7 linked regions of the Homo sapiens genome follow. The protein of the gene in region 1 interacts with the protein of each later gene in a pairwise test. Each region holds a gene or a part of one and is shown in the gene's direction. Other genes may lie near its edges.

Region 1 (3,900 bases):
TTGGTTGGGGATGAATTTATAGGTGTTTCCAAACTGTCTTCCTGTGCTGAGTCAGTTGTCTAGGTGAGAGTCATAGGACTAGTAGAGTCAGTTTCTTGGTATGAGGCATGTATCTGGGTGGCATCAGGAGGTTTGCCAGAATGCAGAAGCCTGGAAAATATCTCAAGACCAATCTTAGGTTTTACAATAGTGATGTTATCTAAAGGAGCAATTGGTGAAGTTACAAATCTTGTGACCTCTGGCTACATGACTTCTGAATAGTAAGAAATTATAGAAAAGCAAGGAACAGTAGCTGGTTATTGCTTACCTATGCCTATATTTTAGCAGATTTTAGGTCCCTCCCATAGTCCTAACCTTGCGGCCTTCTATTAGTCTTACAAGGCTGTTTTAGTCCCTAGAGGGGGTCAGTTTTGGAAGGGACTATTACCATCCTTGCTTCAAAGTTAAACTATAAATTTCTCCCATAGTTAGCTTGCCTATGCCCAGGTATGAGCAAGGGCAGTTAGCTTTGTGAGGTTAGAAGCAATATGGAGTCAGTTAGGTTAGATTTCTCTCACTGTTATAATTTTTGCAAAGGTGGATTCACTTCCAGACCCAGTGTAGGTGTCTTTTCTGTGATGCCTTCCTTCCCTACTCAAAGAGGGTTGAGTCGAGTCAGGTGCGGTGGCATATGTGTGTAGTCCCAGCTATTGAAGAGGCTGAGGTCAGAGGATTGCTTGAGGCCAAGAGTTCAAGGCCAGCCTGAGCAACATAGCGAGACCTTGTCTCTAAAAAAGTATAAATAAATACAAATTTAAAATCTATGCAGATATTCAGAGCTTTCCCCTCCACACTGTGAAATCAAGAAAAAAAGAAAAAGAGGTTGATTGTTCATTCTTTTTGTCACCATTTTATGTAGTATACATCTCTCCTATTGTACTTGCCTCATTCGGTTGAAATTATTTGTTTATAGATCTGTCACTCTTACTAAAATGTGAACTGTTGGAGGAATTCATGCTTATGTTGTTCACAGTATTGCCTAGATCATATTAGGCACTCAAATGTTTGCGGAATGAATACAAAATAAGAAAGAATGCGCTAAGTGGTCTGAGAGAATACAAAGTAATAGGGGGCAAATTGTACAATTGAGTCCCTGCTTCTCAGTCAGAGTCAGAAAAGTTGTCATGAAGAAAATGGAATAGAATTTCAATAGTTAGAATTCTATGACCTGTGCAATGGCATAGGGAGGTAGAAAGTGACATTTGCTCAATACTGTTTTTGGTTTTTGCCTGTCTTACATTATGTTATCAAACTTCCCAGGAATGCTAAGGGCAATGAATGAACTCCTGTTCCCACTCCTCCTGCCGGGATTGCAGGCTGGGGCTCTTTCAAATTAGGTGGTCAATGAAGGCCTCTCTGTGGAAAGAACTTTTATATTGAGACCTGCATAATATAATACAAAGTGCAGTGATCTGGAGGAGTCCAGGCCACGCTAACAACAAGATCAAATACCCTGAGGCAGAAAAGAGATTGGTATATTTTAGGAACTTATGGTTCAATGTAATAAAATAATAGAAACTGGGTGGTGGGATGGTGCAGGGGTGGCTGCAGTAGGGAAAATATGGTGCAAAATACCATGAAATGTGGTTAGGGAGGTAGGCAGAGGCCAGACCACACGTATACGTACAGCAGTGTTTCTCAAACTGTACCTGATGACTCATTACTCAAATTTGTGGTATGTAGCCAGCATTAAAAAGATGACATAAAATAGCAACTTAACATATTCACTACATGTTGTAAGGGTAACGTTCATGAACTTTTGTTTAATTGTATATGTATTGGATGTGTACTGGATTCTGATGTAAAATATATTTCTTACTGTGAGTCCTGATCCACAAAGTTCAAGACACAGGGTACTTTGAATAATATATACTTTATTTGTTTTATCTTATTATTTTATTTTTATTTATTTATTTTTTTTGAGACAGGATATTGCCCTGTCACCCAGCAGGAATGTAGTGGTGAGATCATGGCTCACTGCAGCCTCAACCTCCCAAGTTCAAGTGATCCTCCAGCCTCAGCCTTCCGAGCAGCTAGGATAATAGGTGTGTGCCATGATGCCCAGCTAATTTTTTTTTTTTTTCAGAGACAGGGTCTCACTATGCTGCCCAGCCTGGTCTTGGACCCCTGGGCTCAAGTGATCCTCCCACCTTGGCCTCTCAAAGTGTTGGGATTATGTTTATGTTAGCCACCACGTTCAGCTAATATATAGTTTAAAAGGCAAAATAGTTGAAATCTCAAGGCCTGCAGATATTCTTATTCCTCTTTTGATCTAGTGAAAATGTTCTTGTTGTATGGCAGATACAGCTTTGAATTAACGAAAGCCTAAAATTGGCTAGAGTAAAATTTTCAAGTTTCTTTGTGCATCCAGATCACTCTCCTCCATATTTGCCATCAATCATTTATGAGAAAGAACAGGCCTAAGAAACAGATGTCCCTTCTCTGTGTTCAGTCTAGCCACTGTTGTATGTATTGCAGCAAAGGATTATGGCCTCTCAATAAGCAGCTGAAGATGGAGGTTGTTTGCTCTGTTGGTGAGGCTTCCTGACCACTGCAGTTTATCTAATCAGCTTCTGTCTTCATCTAGTTTGTTATAGTTGAGGCTTCCAAATTCTGGAATCACCTTTATATTGTGAAGCAGAGATAGGGAACCATAGTTTAGCATGTTTCTCATACACCTCATTTAAGATGAAGCGTATGCTGGACTCATCAATTTCTTTTACATATTATAAAGAGGACAGAGAAGGTAATTCTAAGATATATTTGACAAAGATATTAATATTATGTATCTTCTAAAATATAGCATTTATTAGAATATCATTACTCCAGATGAACTGTTAGTGTAATAAAGGACTTTAAAGATTATTAGCTATGTTCCATAAGAACTAATCTAAACCTTTGAAGTAAAATGTCTCAAAGTTGTTTGTTTGTTTATGTATTTATTTATTTTTGAGACACAGTCTCACTCTATCACCCTGGCTGGAGTGCAGTGGTGTGATCTCGGGTCACTGCAACCTCTGCCTCCTGGGTTCAAGCGATTCTCCTGCCTCCACCTTGTGAGTAACTTGGATTACAGGCATGTGCCACCATGCCTGGCTAATTTTTGTGTTTTTAGTGGAGACAGGGTTTCACCATGTTGGCCAGGCTGGTCTCGAGCTCCTGACCTCAAGTGATCCACTTGCCTCGGCTTCCCCAAGTGCTGGGATTACAGGCATGAGTCAAAGTTGTTTTTAACAGAGTTTTCAAAGACAGTTTCATAATTACTGAAGAACAAAATTTTATTCCATGAAATGAAATGCTTTTCAGTTTCCAACTTTATGACGTTTCTCCTAATAGCTTTTCTGGTTTTGTTTTTAGCACCTGCCTTTTTTTTTTTTTAGACAGAGTTTTGTTCTGTCGACCCGGCTGTGGAGTGCAGTGGCGCGATTTCCACTCACTGCAACCTCTGCCTCCTGGGTTCAAGCAATTCTTGTGCCCCAGCCTCCCGAGTAGCTGGGACTACTGGCGCATGCCACCACGCCTGGCTAACTTTTGTATTTTTAGTAGAGACGGGGTTTCGCCATTTTGGCCAGGCTAGTCTCAAACTCCTGATCTCAGGTCATCCGCCTGCCTCGGCCTTCCAAACTGCTGGGATTATAGGCATGAAGCTTGGCACCCAGACAGCATCTGCTTTTTAGTCATCCAGAATTCCTTTTGTTACTTGAATTGCTGATTTGGAAGAATTGCAGTTCCAAAGATCCACAGGATTTTATTTACAAAAAGTGAATCAGAAAGCACAGGGCATAAATTGCAGATATGAAACTCTTAAAAGTTTATTTTCCTATATATTGTATTACAAATGCAGTTTAGAGCCTGTTATAT
Region 2 (3,900 bases), on another chromosome or scaffold:
GCTCACTGCAAGCTCCGCCTCCCAGGTTCACGCCATTCTCCTGCCTCAGCCTCCGGAGTAGCTGGGACTACAGGCACCCGCTCCCGCACTCGGCTAATTTTTTGTGTTTTTAGTAGAGACGGGGTTTCACCATGTTAGCCAGGATGGTCTCGATCTCCTGACCTCGTGATCCACCCGCCTTGGCCTCCCAAAGTGCTGGGATTACAAGCGTGAGCCACCGCGCCCGGCCAATTTTTGTATTTTTAGTAGAGATGGGGTTTCATCATGTTGGCCTGGCTAGTTTCTTTCTTTTCTTTTCTTTTCTTTTTTTGAGACAGAGTCTCCCTCTGTCACCAGGCTGGAGGCGTGATCTCGGCTCACTGCAACCTCCACCTCCCAGGTTCAAGCGATTTTCCTGCCTCAGCCTCTCGTGTAGCTGGGACTACAGGTGCATGCCACCATGCCCAGCTAATTTTTTGAATTTTTAGTAGAGACAGGGTTTCACCATGTTGGCCAGGATGGTCTCAATCTCTTGACCTTGTGATCTGCCCGCCTCGGCCTCCCAAAGTGCTGGGATTACAGGCGTGAGCCACCGCACCTGGCCAACACACTTTTACTTATTCATTTAAACATGTTTACAGGCATCTTCTTGGTGCCAGGCCCTGTACCAGGCTCTGGGCACACAGCAGTGACCACGAAGCTAGCAATCCAGTGTTTGGGCGTGGCTTCAGCTTCCTTCCAAGCTAAGGAAGGGGTTAGGGCTTTTGCCATGGGGGATTGGGCAGCCACTGAAGGCTCCCCAATGGGCAAAGTGAGCAAAGTGGTCAGGTCTGCGTGTGAAAAGGCGCGAGGAAGGGTGTTTGGGCCAATGGGCCCCAGTGCTAGGGGACCTGTGAGATTGCAACACAGGTAGGAACTGAGTCATCCTGCACAGGCAGTTTCCAGTCCCATTTCTGTACAGACAAGGACCCTGAAATTCAGGGAGGAAGAGTAATTTGCTCAGAGACCCATTATGAGGATGGGGGGTGGGGAGAACACTGCTGGGTAGACATGGGGTCAGGCGTTGTGCAAGACAGGCCCAGGGTAAGGGGGTTCTGGCGAATGTGAGAGGGAAGGTGAGAGACCATCTCTGGGGTCCACTCTGTGGGGTGTGGCTGAGATGCTGTCTAGCCGGGCGACCTGCCTACTTTCCAGCTGTGTGGCTTGGGGCAAGTTACTTAACCTCTCTGAGTCTCAGTTTTCTCACTTGTAAAACTGGAATAAAAATTGTACCTGCCTTGGCTGGGCACAGTGGCTCACACCTGTAATCCCAGCACTTCGGGAGGCTGAGGTGGGCGGATGACCGGAGGTCAGGAGTTCGAGACCAGCCTGGCCAACATGGCAAAACCCCAACTCTACTAAAAACACAAAATTAGTCGGGTGTGGTGGCACGCACCTGTAATCCCAGCTACTCGGGAGGCTGAGGTAGGAGAATTGCTTGAACCCAGGAGGCAGAGGTTGCAGTGAGCCAAGATCGCGCCACTGCAGTCCAGTCTGGGTGACAGAGCAAGACTCCGTCTCAAAAAAAAAAAAAAAAAAAAAAAAATTGTACCTGCCTCACAGGATCCTGTAAGATAATGAGCGTAGGGAGCTTGGGGCAATGCCTGGCACCTAGAATGGACCTGTTCCATGGGAGGGAATGGCAGCAGGTAGGCAGTGAAGGTGAGGGTAGGGCTGGCGGGCTGGAAGAGCCGGCTCCAAGGACTGAGAGGGTGGGGGAAGCTAGGGACAAAGGGGGAATTTTGTGAGATTTCCTGGTTGGAGCAGGAGAAGGTGGCTGGCCAGGGGGAGGTCAGGGAACCAGGGGGTCTCAGGTTGTCCACTGGGTGGGGAAGCCTCCCAGGCTTGGGGGAGGGGGTTCTAGGAGGGCTGTGGCCAGGGCCCGGAGGAGGGCAGGGCAGGGGCTGGGCGGGAGGTTCTATTCACCGTGCCTCCTACCCCAGTACTTGCGCTAGTGGCTGTCAGCCAGCCAGGCAGCAGTGCCTCATCGGACTTGTAGTTTTTCAGGGAGAGGTGGTGGCCAAGAGTGTCAGGAGGTGCAGTGCCCCTTGGGCAAGGCCTAGGTGCAGTTATTAAGCCAGGAAGGTAGTTTTCAGCAGCAAGGCTTGTAGGCTTGGTTTCCAAGGCAGGATTTGGCTGGCAGCTGGTCATGGGCAGCTGTCCCCGAAGCTTCATCCTGCCAGGCCCCCCATGTGGCAGAATGGTTTGGTCTCCCTCCCTCTGGGGCACACAGGCCAGAATGGGCCTCCCGTCTCCTTCCAAAGTGGTGCAGCCCAACCGCCAAAGGCCACAGGTCACCTAGCTGGCAGCATCCTGGCGCCCCCTGCCCCCCCAGCCCCCACTGTCAGCTCCTGACTTCCTGTCCCTCCAGCCCTCCGTGGCCTTTTCCCTGTAGCCAAGGTCTCTCACCCGACCCACCTCTGCTGAGCCTCTCTAGCTGTCTCGCTGTCACATGGCTGGGGTGGCAGCCCACCGGGCGCATCCACCTTTCACTGCGCACATGAAGAACCGTGGGCTCAGAGAGGTGACGGCACTTGCCCAACATGTGTCACCTACCGACTCCCAGCCCAGGGGCCTTCCTCATGCCCTGCCAGGCTTACAACACCCAGCTCTTTCATGCCCAATTTCAAGGGCCCCAGGCTTTGCTCCCATTTTATAGATGGGGAAGTAGAGCCCAAAGGCTTAATGATACGTGCCCAGGATGGCAGGTCAAGGACAGAAAGGCAGCTCTCTTGACTCTCAGGCCTCTGTCTCCGGCTGTCTCCTGCCCCCTTGCCCTGAGCCTGCTCTGCTTGCCCTCAGGAGCTGGAGAAAGCTGTGGTGCGGGGCAAGGAGTTGGGGGACCGGCTGGAGCATTTGCAGCGTGAGCTGGAGCAGGCGGCTCTCGAGCGCCAGGAATTTCTGCGAGAAAAGGAAAGCCAGCACCAGAGGTGGGGACAGGGCTGAGGGGAAGAATGAGGGAGGCAGGGGTGTGGTGGGGCGAGGGTGGGGTGGGGCTGGGTGCTAAGGATTCTCCTGGCAGGTACCAGGGCTTGGAGCAGCGGCTGGAAGCTGAGCTGCAGGCGGCGGCGACCAGCAAGGAGGAGGCGCTGATGGAGCTCAAGACCAGGGCCCTGCAGCTGGAAGAGGAGCTGTTCCAGGTGATGCCTGCCCGCCTGGGAGCTGGGGGCCATGCCACCCTGCCCTCCATCCCATGAGCAGATGCCAGGGTCATCTGTCCTCCTAGTCTTGCCTCTGGATTCTTGGCTAGCTACTTGCCTCACTCCCCATGTGGGGCCTGTTGGAGAGAGCACTGTGCTGGGAGTCAGGTGGCCGTGTTGACTTATCTGGGGTCTCATTTTCCCCATTCTGCACATGGACAGAACTTCTGCTGTGGATGACTGCTCCGCCTGTCTCACCCGAGGTCCTCCACTGCCTAGGGAGCTCAGTGTTTGGCATCAAGGAAGCCAGCGATGGTTTCTGATACCCAGGCTGTGTGCGGGCTCCACACGGAGGGTGGGGTGGTGGTGGGGCCCAATCCCAGGCTGCCATCCTCAGGGAGCTCACAGGACAGTCAGGATAGAGGCAAGAAAACAGGTGACAATAACTAGGTGCCAGGGGCTGTGAGGAGGCCATGCAGGGGCTTGGGAGGGTGGTACCCAGCAAGATACCCAGCAGGTGCATGCGAGTCTATCAGGGAAGGTTTTGTGGAGAAGGTGGGGTTGAAACAGAGGCTTAGAGAAGGCCCCACACAGCAGCTCATGCCTGTAATCCCAGCACTTTGGGAGGCCAAGGCAGGTGGATCACCTGAGGTCAGGAGTTCGAGACCAGCATGACCAATATGGTGAAACCCCATCTCTACTAAAAATACAAAAATCAGGCCGGGCGTGGTGGCTCACGCCT
Region 3 (3,900 bases), on another chromosome or scaffold:
TACTGGTTATTCACAACAGCAACAGCAGAGCCTTAAATTAAGTACAGGGCATTTCAGCATGCGACTGCCATAGTTACATGCCCATGATCCTGGCCCTGCTATCAGCAGAGCCTGGCAAGGAGAGCTGGAAGCCTCGTTTCCTACTCTATAAAATCTAGGCCACTATAGATTTACCTGAAGGCAAATGAGAAATGTCACTGTTGGGAAGAGAATAGAGGCTGCACTCACACAATGTTTTTCTGCTCTTTGGTGAAGCAAAAAAGAAAGCCAATAAAGACCTAGGAGAGGCCCGGACCATCTGTGAGGCCCTGCAGAAGGAACTGGACTCGCGTAAGAGAGCCGGGGGTCACCCAGAGGTCCCCACAGTGTCTTAAGCCTCCCCTAACCCTGTATTCCAGATAATCAGCATCCTTGCCATGGCCAAGGGTCCTGTACCCTCTCTAGCCTCATGTCCTGCCAATCTCCCCCTCTCCTCTCTGCTTGTGGGAGTGTTCAGGAAACACCCTCCAACCTCATTCCCACCTCAGGGCTTTTGCCAGACGCTGTCTGTGCTTCCTCAGATAATACAGGTTCCTCTTTCCTCACATCATCAGCTCTAAGTTAGAATGTCCCCAGACAGGATGACTGGCATTCCCCAATCATCCCATTTAAAGATGGCACCCTGCCTCCATCTGGTCACATGCCCCATCCTATTTGATGTGTTTCTTTATAGCCCTTATCCCACTTCGTGGGTGTTGGTATTTTTTCTCTCCTCCCCATGTAAAAGCACGAGCATCCTCCAGGGCCCTCACAGCCACCCTCTGTAAATGTGAAGGCCCTTTGGTGCTTACAAGGAATGTGGGCACCAGAGGGTAGGGAGGGGCTCACCTCAAGGGTTCACATTTGGGTTGGGGCCAAGGCTGTGCCCAGCTTCCCATGTGACCGTGAGCAAGCCCCATCCCTGAGGGTGCAGTGCATAGTCCCTGATGCCAAAATGTGTCACTGTTTTCTAGTGCATGGAGAGAAAGTACACCTGAAGGAGATCTTGAGCAAAAAACAAGGTATTTGCCGCTCCCCTGTCTCCAGGCTTGTGCCTTTGCCAACCCACAGAAGCCCACTCTCCCTATGGCAGCTGAAGCCTTTTGAAACCTGTCCCAGCTTGCCTCTCTCCTGTGGCTTCCACCAGACATGTAGTAAATGTTAAAGCTCAATCAGGTGTCCACAGACCTGACATGATCTGGCTGTGTTCCCCCTGCCAAAACCCAATACCTTGACAGGTTCTCATAGGGCCCTGTTGCTCTCCCTACAGAGACCCTGAGGATCCTCCGGCTGCATTGCCAGGAAAAGGAAAGTGAGGCACACAGGTAAGAGCTTCCAGCTGAGCCTAACTCTGCACTACCTCTTTATTCTGGTAGAGCAGAAAGAGGCAGGAAGATGAATCTGAGACCCACAGCTCTCATTGTTTCCCTCTAAACAATGGAGAGTCCAAAGAATGTCTTTCCCCTTCGGCTCCAACAGCTGGCAGTAGTGTTAAGGGAAACTCTCTCAATGGCAAGACATTCATTTGCTAAATTGTCAATTAAATTTCTTCAGCTGGTTTTTATTTTTTGCCTTTTACTCTTTGTCATACTCCTTGGATGTCTATTCACTCATCTGTCTGTTCATTTAGGCATTGAGCCAACCATTTGTCCATTCTCTCTCCATTCATCCATTATCTTTTCATCCACCCATCGATTTGTCCATCCATTTCTCCACCTCCTGATTTAGCTCATTTGTTACCAGAGGCCCCAGGCCCTGGCACACTGAGATTTCAGCTCTTTGGGAAAACGAGATGATACTAAGATGTGTGTGCATTTGCTCACTTAACCATGTCCACATTAATCTCTCTTAACCTGACAACAATACTTCCAGGGGGCAAATGGTCATGTCACTCCCTACTTACCACATGTTACAGAGAAGGACCTTAATGTAGAGGGAAAAAATAGCCTCAATAGAGGGAGGCAGAAGCCCCAGCCCAGTGCCCTCCTGGGGCTTAAGAGAACATGGCTGAGGGCTGCCTCGCCTCTCCCAGGAAGCACACCATGTTGCAGGAGTGCAAGGAGAGAATTTCTGCCCTGAACTTGCAGATTGAAGAAGAGAAGAACAAACAGAGACAGCTGAGGTAAACCTTAGCATCTGAGGCAGGGGGTTTGGATGGCCAGTAGTTGGGATATAATGTCAAAGATGGGGGTTAGAAAAGCTGGCTACACTGAGCCATGGAGATTCAAGGTGGTGAAGATGTTCCCAGTGGAGCAGAGACCATGGGCAAAGCACCCCAAAATCTGCCTGAAGAACCACAGACTTGGACAGGCTGTGAAGGTGGTGATTTCAGCCCATATCCCCTCATGCCTGTGGTTGGTTCCCAGGTTGGCATTCGAGGAACAGCTGGAAGATCTGATGGGCCAGCACAAGGACCTCTGGGACTTCCACGTGAGTCCCTCAAAGCCACTCCTCCCCCTTCCACATCTTCCCTAGCAGCACCAGGCCCAAACGGTCACTTCTTCCTCTCACCTGCCACAACCAGTCGCCAAGCAAGCCCTGGTGGTGCTAAGATCGACATTGCCTGAATCCAGTCCCTTGTCACCTCCTTGTGACCCTGCTGCTCAGTGGTCAGGGGGATCTCTGATGAGACCAAGGTCAAGTCTTCCATCACTGTCCGTGGATGTGTCTGGGACCATCACGGGCACAAAGGAGACAACGAGGATAAGCAGCCCGTGTTTGTCCCCCAGGAGGATCCTAGGCACTGAACAAGAAAATAGACAGTGAGTGTCAGGAAGGAAGGGCTCAGTGAGGAGGTCACACCAGGACAGAGGGGAGTGGGGAGGAGCTGCAGAGCTAAACCGGTACCTGATCCTCCAGAAAACAGCCAAGACTCACAGTGCTTGCAGGTTTATCTGTTGTAAATAACAATCCATGAGCATCCCCACTGCAGTACCGCAGAGATGTGGGATGACAGAAGTGCACAGGGAGGGAATGGCCAGTGCCATGGCCCTGAGGCTGTACTGTAGCTGGTGTGCACAGAGGGGCAGAGTTGTTGGAAGTGAGGCATAGTGAGTAAGTATGAAACAAGATCCAGATAGCCTTCTTTGAGGCATGGGGGAAAGCCAAGAGGAGTGGACAGGCCTCTTTTCTGCCCCTCAGATGCCAGAGCGGCTGGCAAAGGAGATTTGTGCCCTGGACAGCAGCAAGGAGCAGCTGCTCAAGGAAGGTGAGACCAGGGAAGGTGGATGGCCCATATCTGACCTCACGTGCCTTCATGTGCTCACCTGCCCCTTTGTGCTGCAGAGAAGCTGGTCAAGGCGACACTGGAAGACGTGAAGCATCAGCTGTGCTCCCTGTGTGGGGCTGAGGGCCCCTCCACCCTTGATGAGGGACTCTTTCTCCGCAGCCAGGAGGCTGCAGCCACAGTGTAAGATGTGGAGGGGAAGAGGGTGGGAGGAGGGAGTGGCCGGTGCTGACCACCCCCTACTGGGCCCCCCAGGCAGCTGTTTCAGGAAGAGCACAGGAAGGCTGAGGAGCTCCTAGCAGCTGCTGCCCAGCGCCACCAGCAGCTGCAGCAGAAGTGCCAACAACAGCAGCAGAAGCGGCAGAGGTGCGTGTGGAGGCCCTGTCCCCGCAACCCCCACCAGGAAGATGACTGATGTTGTATCTCCTCTCTCCACCTTCTGTCTCTCTGACTCTTGAAAACCTCTTGTCCCTCCTCCACCCTTTCCTCCTCTTCCTTCCCCCATCCTACCTCTTCCTGTCCAGGCTGAAGGAAGAGCTGGAAAAGCATGGAATGCAAGTCCCTGCCCAAGCCCAGAGCACACAAGAGGAAGAGGCTGGCCCAGGAGATGTGGTAAGCCCCAGAAGTGGGCGTCAGGGAACAGAAACAGCTACTGA
Region 4 (3,900 bases), on another chromosome or scaffold:
CGGTGGCTCATGCCTGTAATCCCAACACAAGTGACCCAAGGCGGGCAGATCACTTGAGGCTCGGAGTTTGAGACCAGCCTGGCCAACATGGTAAAACCCCATCTCTACTAAAAATACAAAAATTAGCCAGGCGTGATGTCATGTGCCTGTAGTTCTAGCTGTTCGGGAGGCTGAGGCATGAGAATCGCCTCAGCATGGGAGGTGGAGGTTGCAGTGAGCTGGATCACGCCACTGCACTCCAGCCTGGGTGACAGAGTGACTCTGTCTCAAACAAAAAGAAAAAGAAAACATTATTTTTACTGTATACCTTGTATGTCATATGCATATGTTACCTGTTCAAAAGAATGGTTAAAATAATCTTTAACAATTATTCTTTAAAAGGGTAAACATATGTCAAGTGTAGTATTCCTTTTTTTTTTTTAATTCCTTTTCTTTTTTTTTTTTTTTTTTCTGAGTTAGGGTCTCACTCTGTTGCCTGGGCAGGAGTGCAGTGGCACAATCATGGCTCACTGCAGCTTTGACCTCCCAGGTTCAAGTGATTCTCCCACCTCAGCCTCCTGAGTAGCTGGGACTAAGGCATGTCCCACCACTCGGGGTAAGCTTTAAATTGTTTGTAGAGATGGGCCAGTCTACCTGGACTCAAGCAGTCCTCCTGAAGTGCTGGGTTTACAGGTGTGAGCCACCACCCCTGGCCTCTGTGTGTATCCTTTGATTGCTGCTAAGAACCTTTGATGAGGCAAGGGAAGGTTGTGGTCCTTTTCCTATCTTTGAATGCCAACCCTAGAACTAGATCTGGTCCAGAATGGTCGTGATTTGCTCATTGTATGTGTTCCCTTTGCAGGCGTGCCGCCGCCAGACGGATTACTGGCAGTTCGTGAAAGACATCCGGTGGCTCAGTCCCCACTCAGCCCTTCACGTGGAGAAGGTAAGAGTGAGAGCAGAGCGGCTGTGCTGGCAGAGCTGTGGGTCTTCACTGTTTGAGGCTCTGTCAGAAGAATCTTCTAGGCTCCAAGGAGGGAATATGTCCAGTTGCCTATCAGCTGAGGAAAGGAAATTAATTATCCCTGTAGGGACTGACTTTATTTGCTTAAAAAAAAAAAACATGCAAACCCATTGGTCCAGGCCACTTTTTCTCCTCTGGGGAAGGGAAAAAAAGTTTTGCTATTTTCAAAAAAGCCTGCCTACATGGGACCCAGGGTGAAGCCTTTCAAAGCATTTCCCTTACCTGTCTCAATTTAGTTCTCAGGTCATTAGGCCTCAATCTTGCCGTATCTACCAGGATGTGTGTTTTGACTCATGCCCCTTTGCTTCCCAGTTCATCAGCGTGCACGAGAACGACCAGAGCAGTGCTGATGGTGCCAGTGAACGTGCTGTTGCCGAGCTGTGGCTGCAGCACAGCCTGCAGTACCACTGCCTCTCAGCCCAGCTCCGGCCCCTGCTCGGGGATAGACAGTATATCAGAAAATTCTACACAGGTAGGTAGAGGCCACTTAGGACTGTCATCTGTGCTTCCTCGTTGTCACCCACCTCACTATCCTCTACCCCTCTGGTACCAGGGCCTCCTATTTTTCTTTTTTTCTTTGAGATGGACTTACGCTCTTGTCACCCAGGCTGGAGTGCAATGGCGTGATCTCGGCTCACTGCAACCTCCGCCTCCTGGGTTCAAGCAATTCTCCCGGCTCAGCCTCCTGAGTAGCTGGGATTACAGGCATGTGCCACCATGCCCAGCTAATTTTGTAATTTTAGTAGAAATGGGGTTTCTCCATGTTGGTCAGGCAGGTCTCGAACTCCCAACCTCAGGTGATCTGCCCGCTTTGGCCTCCCAAAGTGCTGGGATTACAGGCGTGACTACCGTGCCCGGCAGGGCCTCCTGTTTTTCACTTGATGCCATAGGGATTCTACTCAGAAACATATATCCAGACTTACCTCTCACCTCCCAAGTAAGACACAATCCAGCTTTATGTTAAGGTCGTCCCCTACGGCCACACACACAAACCGTAAGAATAGCCACCATTTACCACGAGTTTCCTGTGTGCCCGTCACTGCTGTCCAGTATCTTCACAGCAGCCCCGAGAGTTGGGCATTGGTGCTACTGTTTCCAATCCACAGGGCTCCAGGAGGTTAGGCGACTTGGCCAAAGTCACTCAGAGCCAGGATTCAAATCTGGATTTTTCTGACGTTGAAGCCTCTTGCCCTGGCCATTTTGCTGCACCTCGCGTTCTTCAGCTTCTCCTCTACTTTGTTTCTGATCTGCCTTCACCCTCCTCCTCATTCATCCTTACCTCTCCCTTTCTGCTTCCTCAAGCTTCTCTCAAGGCCTCCCTGATGGGCTCTATCACTGTGGCAGCTTTTCTCTCCCCAGATGCTGCCTTCCTGCTAAGTGACGCTCATGTCACGGCCATGCTGCAGTGCCTGGAAGCAGTGGAACAGAACAACCCCCGCCTCCTGGCTCAGATCGATGCGTCCATGGTACAGGGGACAAGGAATTATCCACGTCTATGCTGGGTCCCTGGAGCTCAGCAGGATGTAGCCCTCTACAGCAAACTTTTTCACTTAGCCATTTTTGTGAGCTGAAAGGCTTGCATTTTTTTTTTTTTTTTTTTTTTTTTTTTTTTTTTTGAGACAGAGTCTCGCTCTGTTTCCCAGGCTGGAGTGCAGTGGTGCAATCTCAGCTCACTGCAACCTCTATCTCCTGGGTTCAGGCGATTCTTGTGCCTCAGCCTCCCGAGTAGCTGGGATTACAGGCGCCCGCCACCACACCCAGCTATTTTTTTGTATTTTTAGCAGAGACAGAGTTTCACCATGTTGGCCAGGACGGTCTCGATCTCCTGACCTCGTGATCCTCCCGCCTCGGCCTCCCAAAGTGCTGGGATTAGAGGCCTGAGCCACCGCGCCCGGCCAGCTTTCATTTAAAATGCTTGGAGGAGGGGAGGTACTGTTAAGTACCTATTGAAGTAGAAAGTCTAGGCTTAGGTCGTGTGCTTAGTAGACCTAAGCTGGGGAGTGGGGAGGTAGATTTTGTTAAACCTGTGGTATCTTTTGACAAAGGATACCAAGCCTTGACAAAGATCTGGGGAAAAGAGGGATGGTTTTGAATCGGATAGAGTTTAGTGTCAGACCTGGCATAGCTTAATGTTACACGGGGTCAGTTTTTTCATGTTTTTTTCTTTGATGTAAAGAAAATTTTATAGTACAAAGAAAATTTGTTGCCTAAAATTAACTTATCCCATCACTAATACTCCAGTCAGTGCCTTAGCTAGAATGGAATCAGAGTCCCCACTTCTTAGAGAAGCAGATCCCCTATCTCTCCAGATTCTTTTAATTAATTATTATCATTATTATTATTTTGAGACAGAGTCTTTACTTTGTTGTCCAGGCTGGGCTGGAATGCAGTGGCATGATCTTGGCTCACTGCAGCCTCCGCCTCCCGGGTTCAAGTGATTCTCCTGTCTCAGCCTCCCGAGTAGCTGGGATTACAGGTGCACGCCACCACGCCCAGCTAATTTTTGTATTTTTAGTAGAGACGGGGTTTCACCATGTTGGCCAGGCTGGTCTCGATCTCCTGACCTCAAGTGATTTGCCCGCCTTGGCCTCCCAAAGTGCTGGGATTACAGGTGTGAGGCACTGTGCCCGGCCTGATTCGTTTAATTTTGATTGTTGGTTACTATCCATTTAATACTTTGTATGTGCCAGGCACGGTGCTATGTATGATAAATGTATCATGTCATTGACTCTTCATAACCCTGTGAAGTGGGCATTGATCTCATTTTATAAAGGAGGCTGCTGAGGCACAGAGTAGATACGTGGTCCAAAGTTTGGATCAAATAGCTGATAAGTGTCAGGGCCTGGATTTGAACCCTAGTCTGTCTGACTTCTGATTCCACATACATCAGCACTTTG
Region 5 (4,533 bases), on another chromosome or scaffold:
CGGCCAGCCAGGGAGGTGGACCGCATGCTGGCCCTGCAGCCCCGCCTTCGCCTGCGCCTGCCCTTGCCCCACTCCTGAATGCACCACATGCCTCTGTCTCCCCGCTGAGCCCAGGCACTTGCCCAGGCCGCCCTGCAGGACCACTGCAATAAACGCCTTCTCCTGCCACTGTGTGTCCGGCTGGAGCCTGGAGGGGATGCAGAAATAGGGCCCGGGCCCGCTCACCAGGGTCCCCTGACAAGGACGGGGGAGGGGCTCCTCTCCAGACTCAGCCAGGCCCTGAGGCCTCTGACCGGTCCCTGCTTGACCCTCGGGTAGGGGTGGGGAACCTCCCCGGGGAGCACAGATCTCCCCTCTCCGGGCCGCCTGGGAAGACCGGGGAGGTGGGGGCCAGAGAGTCGGGACCACATGGGATGGGGCGGGCTAGAGCCAGCCCTGTAGGGACAGAGTGGGCAATGGTGTCTGGGGGCTGGTGAGCATGGAGGGAGGACCCCCAACACCTCAGAGACCTGTGCTGCAGGGCCTTCCCTGCATGAGCAGCAGGGGGCAGCAGATGCCTTCGGAAGCCGCTGGGGCCTTTAGGGGCTCAGTCCTGGCCGGATGCCCCTCCCAGTCCCCACACATCTGGGCTGCCTTAGCGGCTGGGGCCTCCACGCTGCTGTCTCCTCTGATCCTCCCCACGGGGCTGCGAAGCCGGCAGGGCTGGGGCCAAGAGCCCCCACTCCGAGAGGGTGCCAAGTCACGGTCCAGGGGACCTCTGCAGGGCGGGGGCCTGGGGGCTGGGGGGGCGATGGCCTCGGGCCTGGGTGAAAAGGGCAATGCCAGGCCTGCCCGGGCAGCCAGGAGGGCCCCAAGCCCCCACGGGTGTGAGAGGCTCCCAATGCAGGTGGCGCCATTCTCCTTAGGTTGAAGGATGTGTTCCAAGTCGCCCGGCAAGGGGACTGCAGCAGGGCGTTCTGGGCAGGCGGGAGGGGCCCAGAGGCACGTGCGGCGTGCCCCTCACTCCTGGTCCTGCTCCCCAGGCAGGAAGATAGCATCACGCAGGGAGGGGGCAGCCCCCAGCCCTCGGCCACTGTGGCAGGGCCCAGAAGGCCACATCTGGAGGTCCAGGCCTCACCCCAGAAGCCAGGCTTGCAGAAGGGGGTCAGGCCTGGGCTGAAGTGGGAAACCCATTGCAGGGGCTGAGCCGGGGAGCTGGCCCCGCAGGGAGAGGCTGTGGCTGTCGCCAGCAAGCAGCCAGGTTGGTGGACTGGACGCTGACCTCGGGTGAGATGGGCTGAGGCGAGGTGTGGATACTCGCAGCTACCCCTCAGCTGACCCGAGCTGTGTGCCCGGCTGAGGCCACAGGCAAAGCCAGGGACACTGTCCTCAGGCTCCTTACGAGAACGACAGAGGCATCTCCAGCGCGTCACCGAGCCCTAAATAGAGTAGCCCAGCCACGGCACCCCCCACCAAGACTTCTTGGACTGGGCGGCAGCACGCGGCCAGGCCAGGCGGCCGGACAGGTGGGGAGGTCTCTGTGGCTCTCCACGCCCCCATTGGTCTGAGGAGGACTCTATGCCCTTTCTGAGCAGGGGCCCAGCCTGGGGGAGGCCATTTATACCCCTCCCCCTGGGCCCACCAGCCCAACTCGCCGCTGCCGGCCTGACCTCGCTCCCAGCCCTGCTGCCCAGATTCTAGGTGAGGCCCAGCCCGGCCCGCCGAGGCCGGGGGACAGGGCGTGGCTCGAGCTGGTTTGAGGGAGGACTTCCTGGGGCGGGGGTCTGGGGGCCTGGGGGATGCCACCAGCAGCCCCCTTTGGGGCCTGCACGGGTCCGGGAGTGAGAAGGAGAGGCTTTGGGGAGGCAGCTGTAGCGAGAGGCAGGTATTAGACACTCCCTGACCACCAGGCTTCACCTCTGGGGACCCTGGAAGGAGAGTTTAGGGGTCAAGAAGCCCCAGAACCTGAGCCCCCAGGCCAAACTGAGGAGGGATTTCTTCCATGCACTTAGGCCCAAAGCCAAAGAGAGAGGGTTAAAAATAACAGCGTCACTCAGGCGGCCACCTGCGCTGGCCCATCCCACCCTCCCTCGGGGACAGCTGCAGCTCCTCAGGCTATGCCTGGGACATTTTGGGAACACTTTCTCCTCTTACTTCTCACCCTGGGGAATTCCAAGACATTGTCCTTGAAGGAGGTGAGAGTAGGGGGAGGAGGTGAGAGTAGGGGGTGGGCGGGAGGGGGCTGTCATCAGGAGCCCTGAACCCCTCACCACCTACCTGATGGGCACAGGCATCACGGTGGCAAGGGCCTGGCCAACACCTCTGTCTTCCTCTCCCCACAGGCTCCAAGCTCAGGACCTCAGGATGGGAGAGTAAGTGGTACCCCTGTACCCCCATACAGTGACCCTGCCCACCTCCTGCCCTGTCCACCCCATCACACACTCCGACCCCGCCAGCCATGGCCCTAACCTCTGTCTTCTCTCCCCGTCCTGCCTGCGTCCTCCCTCCCTGGACAGTGAGGAGGTAAGTAGTTGCTGGGGGCTCAAAACATGACGAGGAGGGGGCTCCCCCAACTCAGCATAGGTCATAGGTCACAGCCTCAAGGCCCTAAGGCCCAGAGAAGATGGCCTGGCCCTCCCCGCTGGCAAAAGTGCCCCACCCACCCACCAAGACGCTGCTGAAAGAGAGGAAGTGGCTGCCCCAAGCCTTCTGGGGCAGGGGAAGTGTGGCTGTGGCCTGGTCACAGGGGAATCACTTCTTCTTTCTGATTCCTGCACTTCCCGCCCCCACCTCACCGGCCGACCTGCCCCCAACTGGCCCTCCTCTCCCCCAGCCTCTGGCCTCCCAGCACCATGTGCCACCTGGCAAAGTGTCACACACCACACAGCACCATGTCCCAGTGCAAGGTCTGGGGCCAGGGAGGCCCAGCCTGCCCATCATGGCCTCAGGAGCCCCCAGGCTCTGCTGGTCCCGGAGCCGGAGCCCCTGACCTGGCCAGGGAGCGTGGAAGGGGGTGGGGGTGCTCCAGGCCTGGAGGCCCTGACTCGACCCCCTGTCCCCTGCCCTGCAGAAGCGGAACAGGGCCATCACGGCCCGCAGGCAGCACCTGAAGGTAGGTGTGGGCTCCCGGGGGGGTGGCCCAGGTGGGTCTGCAGGGGAGCTGGCTGCAGCCCCTCACCGCCTGCCCCACCGCAGAGTGTGATGCTGCAGATAGCGGCCACGGAGCTGGAGAAGGAGGAGAGCCGCCGTGAGGCAGAGAAGCAGAACTACCTGGCGGAGCACTGCCCGCCGCTGCATATCCCGGGCTCCATGTCTGAAGTGCAGGTACCAGCCCCTCCCCGGCCACCCCGCCTCCCCAGCAGCAGGCCTGCCTGCTAACTCAGTTTCCCCACTTGTCAAGAGGGCCAGTGGGGTGGTCAGGGCAGGGGCAGGTGACCGTGGCTGCCAAGTGTCAGGACGGCCGCCCGCCCCCACACCCACCCCTAGGAGCTCTGCAAACAGCTGCACGCCAAGATCGATGCGGCTGAAGAGGAGAAGTACGACATGGAGGTGAGGGTGCAGAAGACCAGCAAGGAGGTGAGTGGTGGCGGCGGGCCGGCGGCAGGCGGGTAGGCGGTGGCCCAGCGGGCAGGCGGGGCGGGCCGGGGAGGCCGAGACCACCGGGACCTCGGGCTCCCACCCGGCTCCCCTGCCCACAGCTGGAGGACATGAACCAGAAGCTATTTGATCTGCGGGGCAAGTTCAAGCGGCCCCCACTGCGGAGGGTGCGCATGTCGGCCGATGCCATGCTCAAGGCCCTGCTGGGCTCGAAGCACAAGGTGTGCATGGACCTGAGGGCCAACCTGAAGCAGGTCAAGAAGGAGGACACAGAGAAGGTGCGTGCCACGGGGGGAGCACCACCACACCTACCCTGCCGGGGAAGCACCTCCCACACCTGCCCCGCCTGGGGACCACCTCCCACACCTGCCCTGCCGGGGGCCCTGTACCACTGCCCCTCCAGGGTGCCATGCAGGGGACACTCCACTGCCCAATGCAGAGGGTAAACTGAGGCTGAAGGTGGTGTGGACCAGGGTGCGTGCATAAGTGGGTGAGCCTGAGCTCTCTCCTGCCCTCTCCTCCACAGGAGCGGGACCTGCGAGACGTGGGTGACTGGAGGAAGAACATCGAGGAGAAGTCTGGCATGGAGGGCCGGAAGAAGATGTTTGAGTCCGAGTCCTAGGCCACTCGCTGCCCCTACGCCTGCCCCGGTGCCCGGCTCCCAGCAGAACATACTAGGGAGATGCACCCAGAGCCTGCCAGGGAGGGCTGGCCTCACCACCACCGTCAATAAAGGATTTGAATCCCCATGGCTGGTCTGGTCTGGCTCTCCCCAGCCTCTTGGGCCATGCTCTGGGCCCCCGCATCGGTGGCCTGCAGTGTGGTCAGTGGCCAGCGGGGAAAGCCTGGGAGGAGGCCACACGGGGCCTGGGATTTCAGGTTGGGAGGGAAGCTGCTTCCAGCAAGGAGGTGAGCCTGGGAAGGCCCCTACAGGGGAATCCACCCCAGGCTGCACGG
Region 6 (3,900 bases), on another chromosome or scaffold:
TGAGGGGGGGTCAGGAGGGCCTGCAGCAGGTACCAGGGCCAGCGTTCATGGGCACAGGCTGCGGGGAGGTCAGGAGGGCCTGCAGCAGGTACTAGGGCCAGGGCTCGTGGACATGGAGTGGGGGTGGGGGTCAGACCCGGAAAACAGGCCCTCTTGCTGTTTGCTTATCCTCCCAAGGCCTGGGAAGCTGAGGATTTCAGAACCAGGGATCTGAGATCTGGATGGAGTCCCGGTAGCCTCTTGCCTGAAGCTCTGAGCTGAGGGCCCTTAGCACGTGGCTGTCCCTGGTTGTCTGGTCTAGGGTGTGTGAGCAGCCTCCAGAAGGTCCTCAAACTCCCTAAAACTGCCCCCCTGATTTTGAGTGTGAGCATTTTTCTGGGGAAAGGGCCCCAGCTTTAATTTGATTTGTAGAGGGTGTGGCCTGGGGGCCCTAGGGCTTGCTTAGTGTCCTGCGGCAGGTCAGTGGCAGGTCAGCAGCTGCATGGGCCTGCCTCCTGGCCATTGTTCCACACAGGAAGTGGGGGATGAGAGCCAGTGTGTTTCATGGGGTTGGGGCACTTGGCTGGGGTGTGGGTCTGGGGGCAAGATCTTGGGCCCAGGGTCTACCTGTATGGGCCAGGCTCAGCCCCTTGAAGACCCCTAGTCATGGGGGTGGGAGTAGGTCTTGGGAATGGCCTCCGTCTGCTGCCCTGGATGGTGGGTGAGGGCCAGAGCACGAGTGTGTGCCTGGTGCTTGTTTAGGAATAATCCTGGGTGAACTTGTCCAGTCACACCCTTCTCCACTTAGCTTATTAGCTTACTTGTACCCCAGATACTCCCTGGAGGGTGGGTAGGGCTTGTGGGGCCACACCCACTCTGCCGATGGGGAGACAGAGATCCAGAGAGGGTCGAGGCCCCGGGCCAGCATGGCAGAGCTGGTCAGGTGGGTTTGGAGGGCTGAGAGCTGCGTGTCCCCTTCCTTCCCACACCCAGGGTGGGCCCCTAGCCAGACCCTGAGGTGGCCCTGCCCTGTGATCCCCAGGAGGCGAGCCGGCCGGGGGCCCCGGGCTCCGAGCGCATCCTGCTGGACATCCTAGAGCATGACTGGCGGGAGGCGCAGGACAGCAGGCAGGAGCTGTGCCAGAAGCTGCATGCCGTGCAGGGGGAGCTGCAGTGGGCCGAGGAGCTGCGCGACCAGGTGGGGCCCTGCCCGTGCCCTGCCCCTTGTGCGGGAGGGTGTCAGGCAGGGCCTGTGTGCTCACGCCTTCCCTGAGCATCTGCTTGACGCAGGCGCCGCGCTGAGAACTGCATTCATTTGTTCTCAGATGTTGACGGAGGCACCCTTCTAGGCGCTTGAGATGCCGCAGTGAGCAAAACAAAGGTGCCTTTTCCTTGAGGGGGAACTCCAGCAGGGGAGACTGGCAGTATGTGAGATACACAGTCCCACGTCAGCTATTTCATGTAGTCAAAGGCGATGAGCACCGTGGGAGATGCAGAGCTGGGGAAGGGGCCGGTTGCAGTTTGAGTGGGGAGGCCAAGGGTGGCCGGATGGGTGAAATGATGATCATTCTTCTCGTTTTACAGATTAGGCAGTTGAGGGCCTGTGAGGTAAAGTCAGTGGCTCAGACCACTCCACTGGGCAGGAGGGGACTTGTTATTGGGTCTCAGACTGTTGGTGAGCGTCTCTCACTGGCCCTCCTGGGCACCTGCTGGTTAGCTTTCTCATGGTCCCCAGCCCTGTGGTCTGACCCCGCCCCGTGCCACCCTCAGTACCTGCAGGAGATGGAAGACCTGCGGCTCAAGCACCGCACGCTGCAGAAGGACTGTGACCTGTACAAGCACCGCATGGCCACTGTCCTGGCCCAACTGGAGGAGATTGAGAAGGAGCGAGACCAGGTGAGCCCAGCCTGCGTGTACGAGGCCCTGGGCCAGTTGCTGCTTCCCATATGGGAGGAGACAAGGAGCAATGGAGGGGACTAGAATGGTAGAAAGAGACGTTAGCCGCTCCCTGTTGGGTTAGGACGGGGCACAAAGGCTGGGGGAACCAGACAGGAGACCTGGAGCCCTTGAGATACCAGCCTTACACCCTGGACCCACTGGCCTCATCTGAGCTCCTGTGGCAGTTACAGAAGCTGGTCCTGGTGTCTTCATTTTTGAATCCCTTGTTCTGTCCATCTCAAAGACAAGGCCAGCACAGAGGGAGTGCTTACAAATAGAAGCCGATGAAGAAATTCTCAAAAGTTTTGGCTTTCAGTCCCTGGGCACTATGACCCTTGTCTCCTGCCAAGGTTGTGGGGTGGGCTGAGGACCTCCGGCCAGTGCCACCAGGCCCCCGAGCCTCCTTGTGTGAGGTTCCATCTGCAGCGGGGAAGGGCAGGAGGTTTTTGTCCTTAACCAGGTGTGAATCCCACTAGAGGAGTTGAAGTCTGTATATTATTGTTGTTATTACTTTTTGAGACTGAATCTAGCTCTGTTGCCCAGGTTGGAGTGCAGTGGTGCAATCTCAGCTCACTGAGGCCTCCCAGATTCAAGTGATTCTCCTGCCTCAGCCTCCCAAGTAGCTGGTATTACAGGCATGCCACCATTCCTGGCTAATTTTTGTATCTTTAGTAGAGACAGGGTTTCACTATATTGACCAGGCTGGTCTTGAACTCCTGGGCTCAACTGATCCACCTGCCTCAGCCTCCCAAAGTGCTGGGATCAAAGGCATGAGCTCCCATGCCCAGCCGAAGTCTGCATATTAGAAATGCCCTCAGAATCCCCTGGCAAGCTTGAAAGTGCAAATTTGGGGCTTCATTCTCTGGACGTTCTGATTCAGGTGGTCTGGGGTGGGCCCCAGGAATCTGCATTTTATGGGGCTGCCCCCGGCTCTCTCTGAGGCATGGGTGACAGGTCTGGACCATGGGCCCAGCTCTGGAGCCCCTGGTCTTCACTGTGGATGCAGTGGGCTGGGTTTGACTCCTGGCTTCTCCACTGACTGGGATGCTGGGAGTGAAGCCCCTGGCACACAGCAGGTCTCGTGGAAAAGTTTTCAGTTCTTGGTGAAATGGTGAGAGCCTGGATTCTGCAGATGGACTGCCCGATTTGAATCCCAGCTCTGTCGCTCCTGGCTTGGTTTCCCCAGTCTGCAGAATGAGAATAATGATATTAATAGTATCTAACTTAGCCAGTTAGTGTGAAGATATTTAAATGAGCTGATAATTTAGCTCAGGGCCCGGCACACAGTGCTCAGTAAGTGATAGCTGCCATTCTCCTTACTGTCCCCATTCTCCAAGTCATAGGCCAGGAAAGCTGGGCCAAGGTGGCTCCTTCAGCTGCTGCCTCCCCTCCCCCAACCCTAGGCCATCCAGAGCCGTGACCGGATCCAGTTGCAGTACTCACAGAGCCTCATCGAGAAGGACCAGTACCGCAAGCAGGTGCGGGGCCTGGAGGCGGAGCGGGATGAGCTGCTGACAACGCTCACCAGCCTGGAGGGCACCAAGGCTCTGCTGGAGGTTCAGCTGCAGCGGGCCCAGGGTGGCACCTGCCTCAAGGTGAGCGGGTCAAGATTGTGGAGGTCCTGGCAGGAAGGCTGGGGTCCTGGCAGGAGCTCTTGGCCAGGGCTGGGAACGTGCCGGCCCTGGTGGGAGACCTCAGCCAGGGGAGGAAGCTTGGGGGAAGTGGGAAGAGTCCTCAGTTAGGGGCGGGAACTTGAACCCAGGCTGGGCTGGGTGTGGGCTGGTGAGCAGGCGGAGGGGCATGTTGGTCTCTGAGTTTCTGGGGTTGCTTCTGGGACACTAAGAATAGTTTGGAGCTGGTCTTTGCATTTAACTGGGGAAGGCTGGCTGCCTGAGTGCCTGTGTGCATGTTAGAATGCAAAACCTGGGCCTCAGAGACCAGCTAGTCAGGACTAACATGGGCCTAAGCATCCCTCAGAGACCA
Region 7 (3,900 bases), on another chromosome or scaffold:
ATGTGCGTGTTTTTTTTTTTTTAATAGACTTTATTTTTTCAGAGCAGTTTTGGGTTCACAGCAAAGTTAAGTGGGAAGTACAGAGAATTCCCATATACCTGCTGCCCCTACACACTCATAGCCTCCCCCACTGTCAACATCTTGCATCAAGGTGGTACATTTGCTACAATCTATAAGCCTACCCTGACATGTCATTATCACCCAGAGGCCATAGTTTACAGTGAAGGTTGCAGTGAGCCGAGATCATGCCACTGCACTCCAGCCTGGGTGACAGAGCGAGACTGTCTCAAAAATAAAATAAATTTCACTCTTGGTGGTGTTCATATGTTTTTACTTTCTTTGTGTTTTCTGTAATTATCCAAAAGTTTCATATTCCAAAGTTTTAGTGACACAAGCTTAGTACAGTATTTGAATGAAAACTTAAATAATTTGCATTTCTTCATAAGCAACCAAATTTTATTTGTCAGCATTAGGAATTTATTTATTAATTTATGTTTTTGAGACAGAGTCTTGCTCTGTTACCCAGTCTGGAGTGCAATGGCGCAGTCTTGGCTCACTGCAACCTCTGCCTCCTGTGTTCAAGCAATTCTCCTGCCTCAGCCTCCCAAGTAGCTGGGATTACAGGTGCCCACCACTACACCTGGCTAACTTTTTTATTTTTAGTAGAGAGGAGGTTTCACCATGTTGGCCAGGCTGGTCTCGAATCCTGACCCCAGGTGATCTGCCCACCTCAATCTCCCAAAGAGCTGGGATAACAAGCATGAGCCCTCGTGTCTGGCCTGGAATTCATTTTTGATACATCATTCTCTAACTTTCTAATCACTTTATACTTTTACTTATTGTGTAATAGTCAATAATACAATTATATAGCAGGAATTAATCCTATTCATACAACTTAACGGTTTCTACTAATGTAAAATGCCCATGCAGAATATTTACTTTAAAGGAAAACCAATTGAAAACAAATATCAGTGTTCTCAGAGCAGACATAGTGAATGGTATATACTGTAGTAGAAATATATTTTAATAGCTACCCAAAATGTCTGTTAAACAATATTTTAAGTACACTTTAATTACGGTTTTAAGGACAGTAAAAATCTATTTACATTTTTAAACAATGAATACTTTTTAAAAAATTGTAATTGAATGACCCAGGAACTCAGTCATGTAGTCATTGGTTCATCAGATATTTCAGTGTCATCTGTAAGGCATTAAACATTTAGGCATATCATCTTTGATGTGAAGTACTTAGAAGTTAATTAGATGATAAAGATATTTTATCCTTTTGACCTTGATATGTTTATAGTAATTTATTTAACAGTGTAAGAAAGAGCTTGAAATTTGCTTTATTAGCATAGTTATAATCTTATTTAATCTGAAGGATGTTTCTTAATTTCATATTCAGAAACATATCCTAATTTATCATTTAAACACTGATATAAAAATATGTCTACTTAGTAACCTATTTTTTCTTAAGGTATTTACTATGCAGGATCTATTACAACTCATTAAAATCAACCCTACTTCCAGTCTCTACAAATCACTGGTAAGATGGCTTAGTTTCTGTAATCTACTTTGGTTTGTTAATTATAACTGAATAGCTGAATAAAAGTGAAATATTTTCTTTTAACAGGTTTCAGGATCTGATAAAGAAAATCAAAAAGGTAGGAGCCGTCATCTTTGTAGAGAACAGCAACAGTTTTCTATGTACTTTTTCCTCTAAAAGAATGAAGCAAATTTTTAGGGAGAAGAGTAAAATTTAATTTGATTTAAATTATTTGATTTCTGCAGGTCATTTCCCCTATATTTCCATTTTTGTAATAACTTTTAGATATTCAATTAAAAAAACTGTAGACAGTATCAAAGGCCCTACAGACAGGCTGAAAGATACTGTTTGTAAAAATACCCACTGTTGGGAATATTTCTGCAAAAAAAAAAAAAAAAAACTAATAACTTTTAGGCCAAGTGTCTTTGTATACTAGGTATCCCTCTCAAGTATAATTGGTAGGGTATTAGATGTATTAATATTTCCTTAAAGAATGAGAGTTGTGTTCAGTAATGTGTTATATATCTTTTGTTCTTAAATGTTTATACAGGCCGGGCGTGGTGGCTCATGCCTGTAATCCCAGCACTTTGGGAGGCTGAGGCGGGTGGATCACCTGAGGTCGGGAGTTCGAGATCAGCCTGACCAACCTGGAGAAACCCCGTTTCTACTAAAAATACAAAAAAATTAGCTAGGCGTAGTGGCGCATGCTTGTAATCACAGCTACTCAGGAGGCTGAGGCAGGAGAATCGCTTGAACCCGGAAGGCAGAGGTTGCGGTGAGCTGAGATCACGCCATTGCACTCCTGCCTGGGCAACAAGAGCAAAACTCCGTCTCAAAAAAAAAAAAAATGTTTATATAGACCTAATAAATTGCCTTAATTTTGGCCTTGATAATAGCCATTCATAGAGTCCATAACTACTGTGGGTTTCAGGCCATTGGTTAGACTTGATGATGGGCTTTGTAGCATGAACATAAGCTGGCAACTTGGCTTTGATGCATAGTTATTCTTTAGGTCTTTTAAAATAATCTGTTAGTAATAGTCCTTTTGTGTTGGTACACCCTTGGATTTTGTCTGTTGCCTGCACTATCATCCCCACAAGGACATTCATTTATTCATCCATTCATTCGCCAATTCATTTAGAACTTAATCATTTGAATACTTATTTTCTGCCAGCCATTAAGTCTGTGACTTAATCGCCAAGTCTCTTGGTAGTAATGTTAGCAGAATATAAATAAATTGGAGCACAAGATATTCTGGACTGCCCGCAAACTAGACCATCTCTACTGAAGTTCAGTATGGTAAATGATCCTATATTCTGTACTCTAAGTGTCGTCCAGTGTGACTCTCTGTGATTATGGAAATGTCTGTGTCTATGCTGTTTAATGTGGTAGCTGCTATCCTCATGTGGCTTTTGAGCCTTGAAATGTGGCTAGTGTGACTGGATAACTGAATTTTTAATTTACATTTAATTAGCTACACTTGCATAGTGACTACCATATTAGCATAATTCTGAGGTATATAGCTAGTATCTTTTGCTTAACTATTACTTCAAAAGGAAATTTGTGGCTTGAAGGGATATTAAGAAATAATCTATGGGCCAGGCACGGTGGCTCATGCTTGTAATCCCAGCACTTTGGGAGGGCAAACCTGGCTGATCACTTGAGGTCAGGGGTTCAAGACCAGCCTGGCCAACATGGTGAAACCCCATCTCTACTAAAAATACAAAAATTAGCCAGGCGTGGTGGTGAGTGCCTGTAATCCCAGCTACTTGGGAGGCTGAGGCAGGAGAATCGCTTGAACCAGAGAGGCGAAGGTTGCGGTGAGCCAAGATAGCGCCACTGCACTCCAGCCTGGGTGACAGAGCTGGACTCCATCTCAAAAAAAAAAAAAAAATCTATGTAGTTACTATAGATACATTATCCTTAAAAGTAGTTTTTCCATGGCCGGGCGCAGTGGCTCACGCCTGTAATCCCAGCACTTTGGGAGGCTGAGGCGGGCGGATCACGAGGTCGGGAGAGCAAGACCATCCTGGCCAACATGGTGAAACCCCGTCTCTACTAAAATACAAAAAAAAGTTAGCCAGGCCTGGTGGCGTGCACCTGTAGTCCCAGCTATTTGGGAGGCTGAGGCAGGGGAATCGCTTGAACCCAGGAGGCAGAGGTTACAGTGAGCCAAGATCACGCCACTGCGCTCCAGCCTAGCGACAGAGCAAGACTCCGTCTCAAAAAAAAAAAAATAGTTTTTACACAGTCTCTTTAAATGCATCTGGTTCAGAAAGACATCTGGCCGACAGCCCTTACCAGCTTCACCTAGCATCCCAGTAAAATTTCTGGAAGCCAGAAAAACTATGAGT

The links.
Region 2: the proteins of NME7 (region 1) and CCDC88B interact in binary tests that used the Homo sapiens proteins (3 or more experiments, as listed by UniProt).
Region 3: the proteins of NME7 (region 1) and SYCE1 interact in binary tests that used the Homo sapiens proteins (3 or more experiments, as listed by UniProt).
Region 4: the proteins of NME7 (region 1) and RUBCN interact in binary tests that used the Homo sapiens proteins (3 or more experiments, as listed by UniProt).
Region 5: the proteins of NME7 (region 1) and TNNI2 interact in binary tests that used the Homo sapiens proteins (3 or more experiments, as listed by UniProt).
Region 6: the proteins of NME7 (region 1) and CARD10 interact in binary tests that used the Homo sapiens proteins (3 or more experiments, as listed by UniProt).
Region 7: the proteins of NME7 (region 1) and OFD1 interact in binary tests that used the Homo sapiens proteins (3 or more experiments, as listed by UniProt).

The regions. Positions count from the first base shown.
Region 1 is NC_000001.11:169,361,298-169,365,197, reverse strand, and holds part of NME7 (nucleoside diphosphate kinase homolog 7), read left to right. Parts: intron 1-3,900. UniProt on the Homo sapiens protein: Possesses an intrinsic kinase activity. Displays 3'-5' exonuclease activity with a preference for single-stranded DNA. Does not seem to have nucleoside diphosphate kinase activity.
Region 2 is NC_000011.10:64,346,511-64,350,410, forward strand, and holds part of CCDC88B (coiled-coil domain-containing protein 88B), read left to right. Parts: intron 1-2,820; coding exon 2,821-2,948; intron 2,949-3,040; coding exon 3,041-3,158; intron 3,159-3,900. UniProt on the Homo sapiens protein: Acts as a positive regulator of T-cell maturation and inflammatory function.
Region 3 is NC_000010.11:133,555,307-133,559,206, reverse strand, and holds part of SYCE1 (synaptonemal complex central element protein 1), read left to right. Parts: intron 1-255; coding exon 256-330; intron 331-992; coding exon 993-1,040; intron 1,041-1,288; coding exon 1,289-1,343; intron 1,344-2,050; coding exon 2,051-2,140; intron 2,141-2,384; coding exon 2,385-2,448; intron 2,449-3,159; coding exon 3,160-3,226; intron 3,227-3,303; coding exon 3,304-3,427; intron 3,428-3,499; coding exon 3,500-3,610; intron 3,611-3,768; coding exon 3,769-3,856; intron 3,857-3,900. UniProt on the Homo sapiens protein: Major component of the transverse central element of synaptonemal complexes (SCS), formed between homologous chromosomes during meiotic prophase. Requires SYCP1 in order to be incorporated into the central element.
Region 4 is NC_000003.12:197,702,117-197,706,016, reverse strand, and holds part of RUBCN (run domain Beclin-1-interacting and cysteine-rich domain-containing protein), read left to right. Parts: intron 1-841; coding exon 842-925; intron 926-1,315; coding exon 1,316-1,475; intron 1,476-2,362; coding exon 2,363-2,469; intron 2,470-3,900.
Region 5 is NC_000011.10:1,837,354-1,841,886, forward strand, and holds TNNI2 (troponin I, fast skeletal muscle), read left to right. Parts: upstream 1-1,627; 5' UTR 1,628-1,680; intron 1,681-2,115; exon of another isoform or gene 2,116-2,174; intron 2,175-2,321; 5' UTR 2,322-2,343; coding exon 2,344-2,351; intron 2,352-2,495; coding exon 2,496-2,502; intron 2,503-2,853; exon of another isoform or gene 2,854-2,870; coding exon of another isoform or gene 2,871-2,885; intron 2,886-3,049; coding exon 3,050-3,091; intron 3,092-3,174; coding exon 3,175-3,303; intron 3,304-3,465; coding exon 3,466-3,555; intron 3,556-3,677; coding exon 3,678-3,854; intron 3,855-4,102; coding exon 4,103-4,198; 3' UTR 4,199-4,325; downstream 4,326-4,533. Other genes in the region: SYT8 (synaptotagmin-8), read left to right, coding at 1-78. UniProt on the Homo sapiens protein: Troponin I is the inhibitory subunit of troponin, the thin filament regulatory complex which confers calcium-sensitivity to striated muscle actomyosin ATPase activity.
Region 6 is NC_000022.11:37,505,804-37,509,703, reverse strand, and holds part of CARD10 (caspase recruitment domain-containing protein 10), read left to right. Parts: intron 1-1,021; coding exon 1,022-1,177; intron 1,178-1,749; coding exon 1,750-1,875; intron 1,876-3,320; coding exon 3,321-3,512; intron 3,513-3,900. UniProt on the Homo sapiens protein: Scaffold protein that plays an important role in mediating the activation of NF-kappa-B via BCL10 or EGFR.
Region 7 is NC_000023.11:13,737,369-13,741,268, forward strand, and holds part of OFD1 (centriole and centriolar satellite protein OFD1), read left to right. Parts: intron 1-1,477; coding exon 1,478-1,546; intron 1,547-1,633; coding exon 1,634-1,664; intron 1,665-1,675; exon of another isoform or gene 1,676-2,845; intron 2,846-3,900. UniProt on the Homo sapiens protein: Component of the centrioles controlling mother and daughter centrioles length. Recruits to the centriole IFT88 and centriole distal appendage-specific proteins including CEP164. Involved in the biogenesis of the cilium, a centriole-associated function.